2 linked regions of the Homo sapiens genome follow. Changing the gene in region 2 together with the main gene of any one other region gives a genetic interaction. Each region holds a gene or a part of one and is shown on either strand. Other genes may lie near its edges.

What was found. A genetic interaction does not mean that the proteins touch.
Region 1: of VPS4A (region 2) and ATG10, changing one enhances a phenotype caused by changing the other (phenotypic enhancement), as found in Homo sapiens cells (one large-scale study listed by BioGRID).

The regions. Positions count from the first base shown.
Region 1 is NC_000005.10:82,167,477-82,171,125, forward strand, and holds part of ATG10 (ubiquitin-like-conjugating enzyme ATG10), read left to right. Parts: intron 1-3,649. UniProt on the Homo sapiens protein: E2-like enzyme involved in autophagy. Acts as an E2-like enzyme that catalyzes the conjugation of ATG12 to ATG5. ATG12 conjugation to ATG5 is required for autophagy. Likely serves as an ATG5-recognition molecule. Not involved in ATG12 conjugation to ATG3.
Region 2 is NC_000016.10:69,317,781-69,321,429, forward strand, and holds part of VPS4A (vacuolar protein sorting-associated protein 4A), read left to right. Parts: intron 1-869; coding exon 870-931; intron 932-1,042; coding exon 1,043-1,162; intron 1,163-1,606; coding exon 1,607-1,763; intron 1,764-2,360; coding exon 2,361-2,509; intron 2,510-2,907; coding exon 2,908-2,989; intron 2,990-3,270; coding exon 3,271-3,490; intron 3,491-3,649. UniProt on the Homo sapiens protein: Involved in late steps of the endosomal multivesicular bodies (MVB) pathway. Recognizes membrane-associated ESCRT-III assemblies and catalyzes their disassembly, possibly in combination with membrane fission.

The DNA of each region.
Region 1 (3,649 bases), on a different chromosome or scaffold from region 2:
ACAGCCCAAGAATGGAAACATTGTGATGGTGCCTACTTCAACTGCTATGCCAGGTTTTGAAAGAGGAAGTAATTCTGTTGTCTCCAGGAGACCTAAGACCCAAACCATCTATGTATCTTTACTCTTTAGTCTGATACTTTTCAGAGACTATAGGAGTAGTGGACTTAGAAAAATAGAACATCCTGAGGACTCAAAAGTGGGTATCCAAACTAGCTGAAGCAGCTGTTCCACTTCTATAAACACGTATTTTTATTTAATTCTTGAAGGCAGACAGCCAAGTTGAGACAGCATTCTGCTTCTGCCTCTCATTTCTACTACTTTGGTGTACAGGAGCTCAGTTACCAAGTGGGCAACGTGGATTTAAGAGAAGAAATAAGCCCTTCCATCCCAATGTTCTGTTTTTCTCTAACTACTTTTGTCATTGTAGGTTTGGGAGAGGTGGTGGGACACAGTTAATACCCTTTGTCACTCAGGAGAGGGTGAGACATAATTGCACGTCTGTTGAGTAATAATAAATAGCCTACATTGGAATAGTGCCTTATAGTTTAGTAAATCCACTCCCACAAAGCATTGACATCTTCAAGTGCATGCTGTTTTTTTTTTCTTTTTTTCCCACTGTTTTTGAAGCATACCATATTAAAGAATTTTTTGTATCATGCCAAAGCCTTCTATCCATTCCCTACCATTCTTATTCCCTGACCTTTTTATGTCTCATTTTCCCTTTTGAGGGCTCAGCTTTGATCAAAAGCTAGTGGCAAATGTTACAAAGGTGGTAAAACCCTTAGGCACATACATAATGGCCTTTTGCCTTACCAGAGGCCTAGGCTTAAATATTTTCTCCTTACATTTAGCTAGAGATTTCTATATTTATTTCATCTTGAATTCTGATTCATCTCTTTCTTTTCATTTGTTCTCAGTCTCTATTGAAAAATGGACCAAGTGGTTCTTCTTATTTTCAAAACATTTAATTCTTTGGATGACATATGGGTTCTTCTTGGGAGCTGTTTTGACATATTTCTTTAATTAGTCAGCAGGGCTGCATTTGAATAGAGGAGGAATCTTTTCCTCCATTCAGCAAAGGAATGGCTGTCCTTTATGGAGACCATTCTATTATTGGCCCAGGAAAAAAGGGTATAGAATTAAAAATGTAGCCTAAATATTTCATGTGAAAGATTTGTCCACTTGTTGTAGGCCTGAAGGATGCTCATGGAGAAACAGGGCAAAAGAAATAATCAAAGAATAGTTCCTTCTCAAAGGCAGCATGAATCAAACTAAGATAAACGCCATGATAAAGAAAGAATAATGGAAAGTTTGGAATTAAAGCAGCATATAAATCATCAAGCAGGAAAAGGATTGTCTGTGGTTTGCAATAAGAGGACATCTTTGGAGTGCATAGAGGAGAATGACAGCAAAACAGGAAAGATGGGGGTTGGAGGAAGCCGAAGAATAAAAGTAGAATATCCATAGCTCTGTCCAACAACTTGTAGAGGACAGCCACAGGTTGGGTTTCTTGAAGAGGTTAGGAAAAGCACTGTAGAAGGGGAGGAGAGTGAGTGCCAAGCTATGGGGGCTGGAGGGCTGGAGAGAGCCCACCATATTTGGAGAACAGTGAAGGACCAGTTTGGAGTAGGGGCTAACTTAGGATGACTTACGGAAGAAATAGTTGAAAAGATATGTTGAGGTCAAATTATGGAAGAGATAATGGTTAGGAAGGGGTTGGAAGATATAAAGAAAAAGTGAAAGAGTTTGAGCAGAAGTGAATGAGACCAGAGGAAGGATGTCCTAGAAATTGTGCCTGAGTAAAACAGAAAGAAAAGGAATTGAAGGGTGAGAGTGAAATTTGGAAAAAAAAAAAAAAGGATTTGGCTTTTTCATTGTTGTTGTTATTAATTTTATAACAATTTAAAAACAATAACCTCTTAGAGAAAATGAAGAAAATGAGTTGGAAAGAACATATTTTCGGGGAAAGATGTATTATTGCAAGTACGGTAAGAGTTATGGTTAAGGCAGCTTGTTGAATAGGAAGAAAAATAGTGGATTAGAGAAGTATTTTAAGACTGGGGCAAAAACGACTCTAGTTAATTACTACAGTGAGCAGAAAATAGAAAATTATTTGACAGATAATTTAATTTAGAGTCTTAATTGTAAAGAATCTTTAAGAAAGTTTGTGTATTTATATTTATGTTACACATATGTTTATGTAGACAGTAAATCTAGCCAAGGTCATGATAATGAACCATAACATGAATTTTGGTGAATTAAAAAGAGATTCTAGGGATTGAAATGAATTTGAAGAGCAAACAGTGAAAGTTATTTTTAAGAATAATGAAAAGTTATCTAACTAATACAAATATATTCAAACTGAAAAGTCCAAATAACAGAGGAAATCTAGTGAGAATTATTTGTTGAGCCATGTAAATGTTTGAAATATTTTGGGGAATTAGGATAGAAGTCACATGCTGGGTTAGAACATATGATAGCAATAGAATCTCATTGAAAAATCAAGCCCTGTTTTGAAAATGTACTAAAGGAAAGGTGCTAAAGAAATGGGAAGTAAAACTACAGAGATAGCTAGTTAGCCAAAAGGTTTATTCTAAGCAGAATATTGCTTAGCCACATATACAAAAGGCAAGAGATTTTAGTTGGACCCAGAGGCTTGGGAGAGAAAATAACAAGGTAAGTACATTAATTTTATTAACCTGTAAGCGACTGTATTTTAGCTTTCTTAGGTGAATGTTTGTGCCATATGGAAAAAACATCTCTTTGCTTACTATTGGCACAATGAGCCCTGTTTGAAATACCTATTAAAATATACATGAGTGCCTACTGTGTGCACAACACAAATCTCATTAGCCTCTTTTTAAAATATGCTGAAACAAATCACTGCCTAACTTGTAACTCATGTATTGTTTTTCTGCTCCTTCAAAGTCATCAAAGCAGTATTCGAGTCTATATGTTAGGTGCTGTTTTGAGAAGGCAGAGACTGCATTCCATGAGAAGGAGACCAGGTTGGATGGTGGAAGTAAGGGTATTCAAAGTGCTGGTATAGAGTAATATAGTAGTAATAGGTCCATGATGTGGGGATAATGTTTGAGGAAAGCCAGGAATACAAATTACTGAGTATTAATCTCAAGAGTTTGGGATCAAAACCTCAGAATACTTTGGATAGGATTGAAAATAGAGTGTTGGCAGGGCGCGGTGGCTCACACCTGTAATCCCAGCACTTTGGGAGGCCGAGGCTGGCAGATCACCTGAGGTCAAGAGTTCGAGACCAGCCTGGCCAACATGGTGAAACCCCATCTCTACTAAAATACAAAAAAAAATAGCTAGGCATGGTAGCAAGCGCCTGTACTCCCAGCTACTTGGGAGGGTGGGGTGGAAAATCGCTTGAACCCTGGAGGCGGAGCTTGCAGTGAGCCGAGATCACGCCACTGCAGTGACAGAGCGAGACTCTGTCTCAGGGAAAAAAAAAAGAAAACAGAGTGTCTTCTGCTTTAGAACCAGCAGACCTTAGGCTGTAGATATCCAGCTGGTAGTATGGTTCTCAGATTTCTGGATCAATAGTGGTATCACAGGGCTGATGTCTCAGGTATCTTGTGGACCCAATGTTGCTTCCCTTGGGACCATTTTCTGATTCAGAGGTTCATCA
Region 2 (3,649 bases):
CGACTCTGTCTTAAAAAAAAAATTAGCCAGGCATTGTGGCATGTGCCTGTAATCCCAGCTACTCGGGAGGCTGACGCCAGAGAATTCAGAGAATTACTTGAACCCGGGAGGCGGAGATTGCAGTGAGCTGAGATGGAGATTGTGCCATCGCACTCCAACCTGGGCACCATCTCAAAAAAAAAAAAAAAAAAAAAAGAAGCTTCTGGCAGCTGCATTGTTTGACTGGCTTTTTTTTTTTTTTTTCCCCCAGACAGGGCTTCACTGTCTCCCAGGCTGGAGTGCAGTGGTGCGATCTTGGTTAACTGCAACCTCTGCCTCCCAAGTAGCTGGCACCATAGGTGCGTGCCACCATGCTTGGCTAATTTTGTGTTTTTTGTAGAGACAAGATCTCGCTGTTTCCCAGGCTGGTCTCAAACTCCTGGGCTCAAGCGATCCTCCCGCCTCAGCCTCCCAGAGTGCTGGGATTACAGGGGTGAGCCACCGCACCCAGCCTGGGCTGTGAGAGCCACTGCAGGTGGCCTCCCAGAGTATGAGGTGTGAGTCACCGCACCTGGCCTGGGCTGCTCTTTAAGTCCAGCTGAAGCACATTTCCCTTACGGCCTTCAGGAGAGGGCCGACCCGGATTCCCATCTGCTCCGCGAAGAAACAGGGCGGGTTATAGGAGTGTTTGCTGGGGGGGTCCTGAAGTGAGCTGCTGAGAGCATTGGCCCAAATGTCCCTGAAGTACTTGCTTGAGTCACACGGCACTGTTAAGCCAGGAAGGCTTCGTTCCTTAACCAGTGTGCAGGCAGCGGAGCCTGGACTTGCTGGGAGCACCTCTGTGCTCCAGGCTGAAGGGCCAGCTTGTGACTTTCCGTCTCCCTTCCCAGCAGTGACAGTGACAGTGAAGGGGATAATCCGGAGAAAAAGAAACTGCAAGAACAGCTGATGGGTAAGTGGCTCGCGGCCCTGTGGCAGCGGCAGGGGATGAGAGTGGGTCCGCTGCTGGGTTGGCTCATGCCCCTTGGCCGGGCCCGGGCCCGGGCCGGCCTCCCTCTCGCAGGTGCCGTCGTGATGGAGAAGCCCAACATACGGTGGAACGACGTGGCCGGGCTGGAGGGGGCCAAGGAGGCCCTCAAAGAAGCTGTCATTTTGCCAATCAAATTCCCACACTTGTTCACAGGTGAGAGTTGAGCCATTTCAAACCCCAATGTAAAAATTCCAGGCTTCCGCAGGGCTGGCACTCCGAGGCACCCGGGAGTCAGTGGCGACTCAGCCCCCGGGGCCTGCAGAGGGCCAGGCCTGGCTGCTCGCTGGTGTCCACAACACTGCTGTGGCTGGAGCTATGAGATGACGATCACGTCACAGGGTGGGGGCAGGATCAGGAAGCAGTGCCAGCCGGTGTCACTGTGCAAGGTCATGGGGTCATAGCAGGGGCACTGTGCAAGGTCATGGGGTCATAGCACAGGGCACAGCAGGGAATGTAGCTCCCATCACTTGTTTGCCAGTAGAGTCCGTTGTTTCACAGAATGCCCTGTTTTACTGTATGTATGGGACTCGAGACCCTCTGCTTTTCCTATTCCTTTCCCCAGTCAGGAGGCCTAACTTCTGTGGTTCTCTGTTGCAGGCAAGCGCACCCCCTGGCGGGGGATTCTGCTGTTCGGACCCCCTGGCACAGGGAAATCCTACCTGGCCAAAGCCGTGGCAACAGAGGCCAACAACTCCACCTTCTTCTCTGTGTCCTCCTCAGATCTGATGTCCAAGTGGCTGGGGGAGAGTGAAAAGTAAGTCGGCCACCAGGCCATGCTCTGCCAGCAGCCCCGGCACTGCTAGTGACCCAGCGGCCCACCCTGTGGAGTCACCTCTCAGAGGAGTGGTTTGGTTTTCAGGGAGGGTACCCAAGAGCAGTGTGTCGCTAGCTTATCGGCTGGGACACAGTCCCAACAAAGACAAGTGAAGGTGGAAGGGACCTGGGAGAGGTGAAGTGCTCCACAAGAGAAGGGAAAGGAAGTGAGGATATTTTTGGGGTCTGGGTTGCGGTCCCTGTTGGGGCAGTGTGTGGGGGACATGGTTCCCCACACTGACTCCTGTTTTGCGTGTGATGAGACGGGCTCGGAAGAAGGGGACTGACGTGTTGTAAGTGCAGAGCTAGCGCATGGGGCTCCTGGGATTGAGGCTCTGCGTTTGGGGCTGACACCAAGGTGTGCTCCTCCTCTTGGTGCAGTGTGGCCCGAGGGCTCCTCACCACCACGTTTTCCGCAATTCCGGCATGACCGTGGCCTGCGCCTCCCTGTGGGAAGGGTGAGAAGAGGGAAGTGCCGGGAGCCCAGGCGGGCACGGACGTGAACGTCTTGTCCTCACCCCCTTTCTCACCTTCACAGGCTGGTCAAGAACCTGTTTGAGCTGGCCAGGCAGCACAAGCCCTCCATCATCTTCATCGATGAGGTGGATTCCCTCTGCGGGTCCCGAAATGAAAATGAGAGTGAGGCCGCCCGGAGGATCAAAACGGAGTTCTTGGTCCAGATGCAGGGTGTGTGCCGGGCCCAGGGCCCCCTTGGTTCTTGTTGCACCTGAAGCCAACCCTGGGCTTTATTCTGAGCTGCGGCTGGATTTGGTTGTTCTCAGCCTCGGAGAGGCACTCCCCAGCTCCAGCCCCTCAGGGCACGGGTGGACTTCAATTCCCAAGAGGTGCCTGAGGCCTCTGCCTCACGGGCCACTCCACCCCTCCCATGGCAGGCAGTGCCATAGGTCTCACCTGGCACAGCCAGACCAAGATGTGGTTTAATCTCACTTGGGACCCTGCCAGTGGTGGGTGGCACAGGGATGGCTTCAATTGCTGACACACAAAGCCCCCGGGGTCTGTCCCCAGGTTTCAACTGACCCGTGCAGGTGTCCAGAGTCTGAGTCTTTGTCTCCCTTTCTCCACAGGGGTGGGGAATAACAATGATGGGACTCTGGTTCTTGGAGCCACAAACATCCCATGGGTGTTGGATTCGGCCATCAGGAGGAGGTGAGTCTTCCCCAGGAGAAGCCAGGGCTGGAGGCTTCCTCCCACCATGGTCACGGTCCGCCTGCTGCTGGCAGCCCGGGTGCAGCCTGGCCCCTTTTCCCTGGAGTCTTCCCGTCTGCCTGCCAAGCAGAGCCCTTTGTGAGGCTGGCTTGTTGAGGATGTGCCGCCAGCATCACTGGCCCATGAAATGCGTCCGTTTCACTCAAATCTTCGTGCCTCCCCTTCCGTGAATACCATTCCATCATCCGCTGTCAACTCCTGCCGTGTGCTGGGCTCTCTAGGTTTGAAAAACGAATTTATATCCCCTTGCCGGAGGAAGCTGCCCGCGCCCAGATGTTCCGGTTGCATCTCGGGAGCACTCCCCACAACCTCACGGATGCAAACATCCACGAGCTGGCCCGGAAGACGGAAGGCTACTCGGGCGCGGACATCAGCATCATCGTGCGGGACTCTCTCATGCAGCCCGTGAGGAAGGTGCAGTCGGCCACACACTTCAAAAAGGTGAGTGCCCGCGGCCACTGCTGAGAAAAATCTCATAGTAAGAGCGGGATGTTCGGTTTTTTTTTTCCCAGCTCCTGGTCCTGCTCCCCGGCTGCTCAGGTGACACAGTCTCTGAGGCCTCCTGGAGAGCCGAGGGCCAGTGCCATGGGGGCTGCACCC